2 linked regions of the Homo sapiens genome follow. The protein of the gene in region 1 purifies or fractionates together with the protein of each later gene. This does not show direct contact. Each region holds a gene or a part of one and is shown on either strand. Other genes may lie near its edges.

Region 1 (5,104 bases):
CAAAGGAATCTAAGGAACCTGTGACGCATGGGAATTCCTTCCTTTCTCTTGCTCCAAGCAGAGCAAATATAGCCCTGGTCACAGATTGAAAGATTGAGAGCAGGGAGAATTTTTCCAGGTACAGTCATTCTTAACCCATTCAAAAAGCAAAGTTCATCAGCGAAATTAACCAGTAATGTATTAATAGTACTAAAAGTTATTTGTTAATCAGAAAATGCCAATTGGTACAGGAATTGGAAATCGTTTTAACACCTAAAAACTCCTTTTGATGTAAACAAGAAGGAACGTTAGCTCTATAAGGAGCCTGGCATGTACTTTGCTGTATTCCCAGCTCTGGAACAGTGCTTGGCACTGTAGTTGCTGAATGAATGAATACATGAGTAAAATCCCATATGAAAAATTGCTAGATGCTGTATTTATTTGATACCGTCAAATATGCAGTACATGCCAAGCACATTTCCAGATGCTGGAGAAACAAAGATGAACATATGACCTAGGCCCTCGAGGAGTTTATACTCCTGATGGGAACCCAGCACACCATTGAAAAATTAAGAGGCTTGGAGAATGCTGCTAACTATTATGACAGCCCAGGAGAATCAGGGAGGATTCCACAGGAGAAGTACCCAAGCTGAGACTCGAACAATGTCTAGAAGTTTACTTTCAAATCAGTGTGCAGGCCAGGTGCGGTGGCTCACGCCTGTAATCCCAACACTTTGGGAGGCCAGGGCGGGTGGATCACCTGAGGTCAGGAGTTCAAGACCAGCCTGGCCAACATGGTGAAACCCCGTCTCTACTAAAAATACAAAAAATTAGCCAGGCATGCTGGCGTGCATCTGTAATCCCAGCCAGTCGGGAGGCTGAGGCTGGAGAATCACTTGAACCCGGGAGGCGGAGGTTGCAGTGAGCCGAGATCATACCACTGCACTCCAGCCTGGCTACAAGAGTGAAAAGTCTGTCGCAAAAAAAAAAAAAAAAAAGTGTGCAGGGATGGGAAAGTATGGGACCTGCTAGGTATTGAATCATGTAAACAGAGGGAGATGAGTCTGGATAGATAGCAGGGATCGTGTTGTAAACGCCCATGGAAACCGTATAGAGAAGCTCACATTTACCCTATGGGGTGGGCTCCTGAAAATACATGAGCAAGGTAACAACTTGACAGGAATTAAGAGCATGCTCAATGTTTTTGTTCATCTTTGACTTCATTAGGTAATCTGTTGGTAATTTAGTCTTTCAGGATTCTGACCAAAAGGGCTTATGATGTGCAAAGCAGTTAATTGATCTAAACTGTTCTCTATCACAGCCAGAAGATACCTGAAATTCCTGCAGATGTTGTGGGTGCCCTTCTGTTCCTGGAGGATTATGTTCGGTACACAAAGCTACCCAGGAGGGTAAGTGATAGATAGTAAAGAACAATATTAATAGTTGTAAAAAGATGCTAATAATAGTGGCCCTGGATTCATCAGGAGTGAAGCCCAATAGGTCGTTCACAGTAGATGCCTCTGCGCCTCTCGCCACTGCTCTACCCCCAGCTCTGAAATGTCCTTGCCTTTTCCACCATGGGAATTGCCTTGCAGAGTTTAACACAATGCCCCTCCCGCCTCTTCTTCCTCTCCACCATGTACTCCTGTCAGCAACTCATCTGGTTCAGGAGTTAAGTGAAATAGGCAAGCCAGGAGGGATTCCTTAAGTGGCCAGAGGAAAGAAATAATCATGGTGGTTTGTTCTTTCTCTCTCCACTGACCTGGTTCCCACAGCAAGCACAGTTAAGTTCATGCCACAACTAAATGTATATATGAGCACTGTTTCCAAAAATGGCAGACTACTTTTTACCTGCCAAGACATTCTTTCCTATCCCTTTCTCATTAGTAATTCCACTTTGTTAAATTTTAGCTCAAAGTGGAGAGCTTGATACTGAAAAATACAACTTTCAGCAGATACTGAAAATCATTTGATTTTTAGAAATTAGTAGGTTAGGAATCAAAGATACTTTCTTACAACATGAGCCAAAGATGAACTTTTAAAATTAACTAGCAATGTCAGTACATAATAGTGAAATGTTAGTGGCATTCCCATTAAAGCCAGGACTGTCACAGTGTCATGACAACTATACAGACTCTTGCAACTACTTTTGTTATACAGGTGCAAGACAATAAGAAATGAAATGAAAATAAAATGCATATTGGAAAGAAGACAAACTCTGTATTATTTGAGATTAATTGTCTTCCTTTTTTATTCTATTTTTCCATAAGTTATTGGGATACAGGTGGTATTTGGTTACATGAGTAAGTTCTTTAGTGGTGATTTGTGAGATTTTGATGCACCCATCACCTGAGCAGTATACACTGCACCATATTTGTAGTATTTTATCCTCACTCCCCTCCCATTCTTCCCTCCAAGTCCCCAAAGTCCATTGTATAATTCTTATGCCTTTGCGTCCTCATAGCTTAGCTCCCACATATCAGTAGGAATATACGATGTTTGGTTTTCCATTCCTGAGTTACTTCACTTGTAAGAATAATCTCCAGTCTCATCCGGGTCACTGCAAATGCTGTTAATTCATTCTTTTTTATGGCTGCGTAGCATTCCATCGTATGTATATATCACAATTTCTTTATCCACTCATTGATTGATGGACACTTAGGTTGGTTCCACGATTTTGCAATTGTAAATTGTACTGCTGTAAACATGCATGTGCAGGTATCTTTTTTGAATAATGACTTCTTTTCCTCTGGGTAGTTACCCAGTAGTGGGATTGCTGCATAACTGTCTTCCTTGAATACCCAATAGAATCATGTGAAAAACTATCAAAATAATACAGAGATCAGAAAACAAGCTGGCTACAGAATAAATGTATGAAATACATCAATCGATTAAAAAATACAGTGTGAAAAAGGACCTATTCACAGAAATAACAAGGCAATGATATAGCTAAGAATAACCTCTATAAGAAATATGAAAGAACACTTTATTAAAAAACTATAAAAATTTTAAATATAAAATTTGAAAGTCCATGTTTCTGAATGAGGGTCCTCGAATATTACAGAGATAATAGTTCTATCTAGTTTATAGGTTTACTGCAGTTACAATCAAGATTTCAGGTACTTTTTTAACTTCAAAGAATATATTTTTTAAAATGTCATAGGACTTAGGCAAGTCCTTTTTTAAAAAAAAGATATTAAAATATTATATCAAGTATTAAAACACTGTAAAACTGTAGAAACCAAAATAGGGTGCTACTGGTATGCAACTAAATAGAAGGAACAATGAGCAAGAATATGTAGCCTAGAAACACACCCTGTGCATACAATGGTACATAAGGAAAAGTAGCATCTCAAATTAAGAGAGAAAGGGAATATTAGTCAATAGATGTAAGTTCACACAGTTAAAAAAATAGCAACTTAGTCCCCTTTACATCTCCTATGTTATCAAAATTAATTACAGATAAAGGGTTAGTGTGAAATATGAAACAAATAAATTAGCCGAAATTTTAGGCAAATATGTATCAGCTCTCAGAAATTCCTAAGTATAAAACCAAAAGAAGAAACTATAAAGAAAAAGATTTAGAGACTTGATTTTTTATAAATGCTGAATGTAATTAATTCTGTGTCAGTGTCTCAGTTAAAAAACAAAAGACAAAAGAGGAAATACCAACAAAGGACTAGTTTCTTGATTTATAGTGTGCTCTTCAAATCTTCAAGTTCAGTATGAAAAAGATGTCCAAGCCAATAGAAAAAAAGCAGGGGAAGGGCAAAGGAAATTAAGAGGCAGTTTTCAAGAAAATAGAAATGACAAACCTTCGGATTCAAGGGACAAAAATCCAAATACGAAAATTACTGTTTCCACTTATCAGGTTGGTGAAAGGTAAAATGTTGGGCCCCCATTATTCGGAAGCATTTGGAGAAATGGGACTTGTAAGTGCTATTAATTGGAATGTAAATTGACAGCCTTTGAGGAGGGCAATTTAGCTTTATCTATTTTAAAAAAACATTTGTAATATACTTACCCTGATCCCAGCAATTCCACTGCTAGGAATTTTACCTGCTGGATATATGTGCAAAGGTTTACCAAGATATGTGCCCAAGGATGTTCATAATATAAGATTTAGCAGAGGTAGAGAAGGACACAATATTATGTGATCCTAATTTTGATTGTGTGTGTGTGTGTGTGTGTGTGTCTGTCTGCATATGTAAGTAAACTGGAAAAATTCATTACAAAAGTTGCCAGTTTTTATTTTCTTTAAGGGATTAAGATTAAAAAAATATTTTTTTAAATTTTAAGCTCTGGGCTACACGTGCAGAATGTGCAGGTTTGTTACATAGGTATTATACATGTGCCATCTGTCGCCAGGCTGGAGTGCAGTAGTGAGATCTGGGCTCACTACAGCCTCCGCCTCCCTGGTTCAAGTGATTCTCCTGCCTCAGCCTCCTGAGTAGCTGTGATTACAGATGCGTACCACCACGCCCTGCTGATTTTTTTATTTTCAGTAGAGATGGGATTTCTCCATGTTAGTCAGGCTGGTCTTGAACTCCTGACCTCATGATCCACCCACCTCAGCCTCCCAAAGTGCCAGGATTACAGGCGTGAGCCACCACGCCCAGCCTAGGTTTTAAGCCTCACATGTATTAGGTATTTATACTAATGCTCTCCCTCCCCTTGCCCTCCACCCACTGTAAAAATAATTTTTATACTCTTCTGCATTTGCTAAATTTCCTCTCATTAGCAGGTTATACCTTTATGATCAGAAAAAAAATTAAACACTGCTTCTAAAAAATACTCATCTCCAGCACTTGGAGATCACCTACCTCTACATTCTACCCAACTGAGCCCAATTTAGTCTTCTCAGGGCTTTGCCCAAGAACAGTTCAGGAATGCATGCCTCTGAAGGCCTTCCTGCTCTTCCCCTTCTGGCCTTGGTATCTCATTCTCATTCCTGCCCTCCCCTACCTCTCCAACCCCATCACTTGCCAGCCATCCTGTTCTTCCTTGTTGGTCATCAGTTAATGAAGTGTATTAGGTGACCTGAGTACTTGTCAGTACTTCCCAGAGGCAAGAACATTCCTCGCAGATCAAGGTACCTTTAAGAGCCAAGAAGCTCAGATTTGGA
Region 2 (4,357 bases), on another chromosome or scaffold:
GATTACTACTGCTTGAGCTCACACTGGCATCAAAACCTGCTGGCGAGCTATTCCCTTCAGACTGGAGGTCTTGGAGCTCCCCAGCAACACTATCCACCTCAATTGTGCTATCAGTTTCACTCTTGATACTTCGAACCTCTTCTTGGTTTGGAGCCAGTGGTTCTGATACTGTTACAGAAGACTGCTGCCGGCTGCCTTCTGTTACAGTGACTGATGAAGGCGATTCAGGTGTAGTAGGAGGGGTATTTAGCACTGAATTACTGCCACTACTTGGAAATTCTGCTTTTCTGTCATTGACCTCTACTGTTTTTTCTTCAATGGGTTTACTATCGACATTGACTGGAGGTGGTTTTTCTAGTTCTACACTGGGTGAACAACTCTCCTCTTCAGCCACAGTCTGCAGTGACTCCTCTGCCACCCCCTCCTCTGGGGCAGGATGCGGTGGGGAAGCTGCAGCCTCAGTATCAGAGTCTGAAAAAAGCTCTTTCAGCGTTTTTTTAGGCCACTGTCCCTGAATACTTGACCAGACATCTTTTCGATCTTTGGCCCTGCTGTTTTGAAGTCTTTCATCAGAGTTATTTAAAAGTTTAATCCTTTTTTCTGCCACTTCTGAAAATCCTGAATAGAAACCAGTTGTCCGTAGAGATTTTCTTTTTTCCTCCAAACCATTGTATTTCTTAGTTGGTGTCATCTTTGCTTTTGTTTCTTCTTCATCTTCATCTGAAGAGCTGTTGCTACTGTTTTCCATGCAAAGTGATTCTTTGTTCTTGGCCTTCTCTTCCTTTTTGCCAGGTGATCCAGTTTTTAGACACTCTTCTGTATTGCAATACCTTCTTTTACCACGTTTTATTTGTGGTTTTGAAGATTTATCTGTTGTGTCCTTCTTGACATCCTTTCTCTTTTTTGTGACTTCATCTTCTTCATAATCAGTATCTTCGGATAATACTTCTATATCTTTCCTTAATCTTTCTGGAGATTTTGACACTGGTTTGGATATTACCAAATCTGCATGAACTTTGTTTTCTTCTAGCAAAGATGAACTGTTCTGTTCCTCCTTTGAAATAAGATCATTTCTGTTGTTGGTCAAATGATCAATCTTAGATTCCTCTTTGCCATTATTATCCATGTCTTGAGCACCTCTCTCATCTTCCTGCTCACTGTCTTCAGCAGAACTTTCAGAAGCTAGAAAATAACAGAAAAAAAAATGATGAGTATGATAAGAACACTAGCAATGTCTTCTATGTGCCAGGGACTGTATATATTAGGTCCTGTGTATACAGCCACCCGAGGTTGCTGGCTTTTATCTCTATGTAACATGCAAAGAAACTGGGTTTCAAAGAGGCTAAGAGGCTCTTCCAATGATGGAAATGTTCTATTACGATCACGGTGATGGTTGTAACACTGTATACTTTTGTCAAAACCCATCACATTTTAAACATAAAAGTCATCACTTTTATGTAAACTGTACCTTAATAAAGCTGAAATAAAAAAGAAAAAAGCTTCTCCAAGTTTATATAAGTATAATATTTTTATCATAATATATCTGAGAAAATAGTGGAGTCAGGATATAATCCCAGATTGTGCTACCTCCAAGTTAATATTCTTCTTTTTTTTTTTTTGAGTCTCACTTTGTCATCCAAGCTAAAAGTGTAAGTGGCGTGATGTCGGCTCACAGCAAGCTCTGCCTCCTGGGTTCACGCCATTCTCCTGCCTCAGCCTCCTGAGCAGCTGGGACTACAGGCGCCCACCACCACGCCCGGCTAATTTTTTGTATTTTTAGTAGACACGGGGTTTCACTGTGTTAGCCAGGATGGTCTTGATCTCCTGACCTCGTGACCCGCCCTCCTCGGCCTCCCAAAGTGCTGGGATTACAGGCGTGAGCCACCACGCCTGGCCCCAAGTTTATACTCTTATGAAACTATAGCCTTCATTTTTCTTTTCATCAGAGACGGTCTCACTCTCTCATCCAAGCTGGAGTGCAGTGGCACAATCACAGTGCACTTCAGCCTCAAACTCCTAGGCTCAAGAGATCCTCCCACCTCAGATTCCTGAGTAGCTGGGATCACAGGAGCAAGCTACTGCACCTGGCCTCTCATTTTTCTTTCCTTTGTTTTGTTTTGTTTTATTTTCTTTCCCTCCCTGCCTCCCTTCCTTTCTCTTTCCTTTCTCTTTCTTTATTTCTCTCTCTCTCTCTATTTTTTTCTGAGACAGGGTCTTACTCTGTTCCCCAGGCACTATCATGGCTCACTGCAGCCTCAACCTCCTGGGCTCAAATGATCCTCCCACCTCAGCCACCCAAGTAGCTGGGACTACAGGTGTGCCACATCCAGTGAATTTTTGTATTTTTTGTAGAGACAGGGTCTCGTCATGTTGCCAAGGCTGGTCTTGAACTCCTGAGCTCTAGCAACCTGCCTACCTCAGCCTTCCAAAGTGCTGAGATTAAAGGCATGAGCCACCACACCTGGCCAGCTTCATTTTTCAATGTAATAATGAATATCCAATAATTTTGTAATCAATGATTTCCATGATGTTTTAAAGAATAGATATAATTAATTTTAGTTACTGATAACTTATGTAAAATTAATTATGGAACTTACTGCTTCAGTGTGTTCATTCTGGTAAATCATTTTATTGTTATTTTAAGATAACATTTCCTGAGAACTTACTACATGCTGGTTACTTTTGATACACTTTGAACAGACCATCTCATTCAATCCTCAGAACAATGCTACGAGATACATGTTATCAGCCCCACTTTATAGTTCAAGAGACTAGGGTCTTAAATAAATAAGAAAAACAAACAAACAAAAAGCAACACAACAAAACAAAGCAAAAAAAAAGGGACTGGGGTTTAGAGGTTAATCTACCCCCCAAGGTAGTTAAATCTAAGTCATTTAACTCCAGAACTTACAACCTTAACTATAGCTCTCTACTGAGAAATCCATGCATGTTCTTTAGCTAAATTCATTAAATGTAAAACATAACTGACATAACTAAGATTGTGAAACCATTTCACCTTTACAATGTGTGTCTGCATGGCCACATTTTTTAAATTATCAAAACAATACATATACATCATTAAAAACAAATCTAGACTCATAATGAAAAACCAAAAAGAGGATAAAAATCTGTTTTTCCACCTCCAAAGTGTTAACATCTGATAGTTATAGTCATCTCTTACTATTCATAATATACTATTTGTTTTATTTATTTTTTTGTGTGTGTGACGGAATCTCACTCTGTCACCCAGGCTGGAGTACAGTGGTGTGATCTCAGTTCACTGCAACCTCCTCTTCCTGGATTCAAGCAATTCTCCTGCCTCGGCCTCCCAAGCAGCTGGGACTACAGGCACATGCCACCATGCCCAGCTAATTTTTGTATTTTTAGTAGAGATGAAGTTTCATCATTTTAGACAGGCTGATCTCGAACTCTTGACCCCAAGTGATCTGCTCATCTCAGCCTCCCAAAGCACTGGGATTATAGGCATGAGCCAACGTCCCTGGCCTGCTGACTTATTTATAAAGTTTATCCTCTATGAGCAATGGGGATTCTTACTTATCAACACCCATATCTCCCCTCTACCATCCTTTCTATATATAGTTATCTTTCATTTTTACAATATAGTATTTATAACATATGTAAATGTGGTTCCCTGCAGAAATAAGTAGTACATTTGATAAACTTCCTTTCTTATACAGCATTTTATTTTTCCAAGAGTTTCCAACTACTTTTCTGCATGTTACATCTTCCTTTGTATCTCTTTTACATTATTTTATTTCATTAAATTAAGCGTTGTATCCAATTTCCCCTTATTCATCCTATCTCTGCACCCTAGAGAGCTATTTTCTGCAGTAGCATCTGGGTGGTATCTCTCTGGGTCTGCTCTAACAGCTGTCATCCGGGGAATCCTCCTCACTGCTTTCTTTTGAGCTAGGTCCACTGTTAACTGAATCTCACATCTTCTTCTTCCTTGGTTATCTCATCTGTACTAGAGCTCATCGAGTAGTTTCCTTAAAAAGGTACATGGGATATAAATATTCATCGTCCTTACTTATCTGAATACATCCTTACCCTCAAACTTCATTGATTGAGAGTTTCACGAGGTACAGAATTCTAGGTTAAAAATTGTTTCCTTCAGAGTTCTGAATCCTTCCGAATGTATTGCTTCTTTGCTTAAGGGGTTATAAGCCATAACCTTCCTTTGGTTTCTCATTCCTTTGTGGTGATTTTTTCATTCTTGATATTTTATAATTTCATAATGATGTACTACGGTATGACTCTATTAATTTATTCGGTACCTAGTGAGCAATTTCAATGTAAAGATTTGTGTCTGTCAGTTCTGGAATTTTTCTTTAGT

Evidence for each region. The genes of interacting proteins can lie anywhere in the genome.
Region 2: the proteins of WASHC5 (region 1) and ARID4B fractionate together in Homo sapiens (co-fractionation; one large-scale study listed by BioGRID). This does not show direct contact.

The regions. Positions count from the first base shown.
Region 1 is NC_000008.11:125,024,904-125,030,007, reverse strand, and holds part of WASHC5 (WASH complex subunit 5), read left to right. Parts: intron 1-1,300; coding exon 1,301-1,388; intron 1,389-5,104. UniProt on the Homo sapiens protein: Acts as a component of the WASH core complex that functions as a nucleation-promoting factor (NPF) at the surface of endosomes, where it recruits and activates the Arp2/3 complex to induce actin polymerization, playing a key role in the fission of tubules that serve as transport intermediates during endosome sorting.
Region 2 is NC_000001.11:235,181,612-235,185,968, forward strand, and holds part of ARID4B (AT-rich interactive domain-containing protein 4B), read right to left. Parts: intron 1,183-4,357; coding exon 1-1,182. UniProt on the Homo sapiens protein: Acts as a transcriptional repressor. May function in the assembly and/or enzymatic activity of the Sin3A corepressor complex or in mediating interactions between the complex and other regulatory complexes.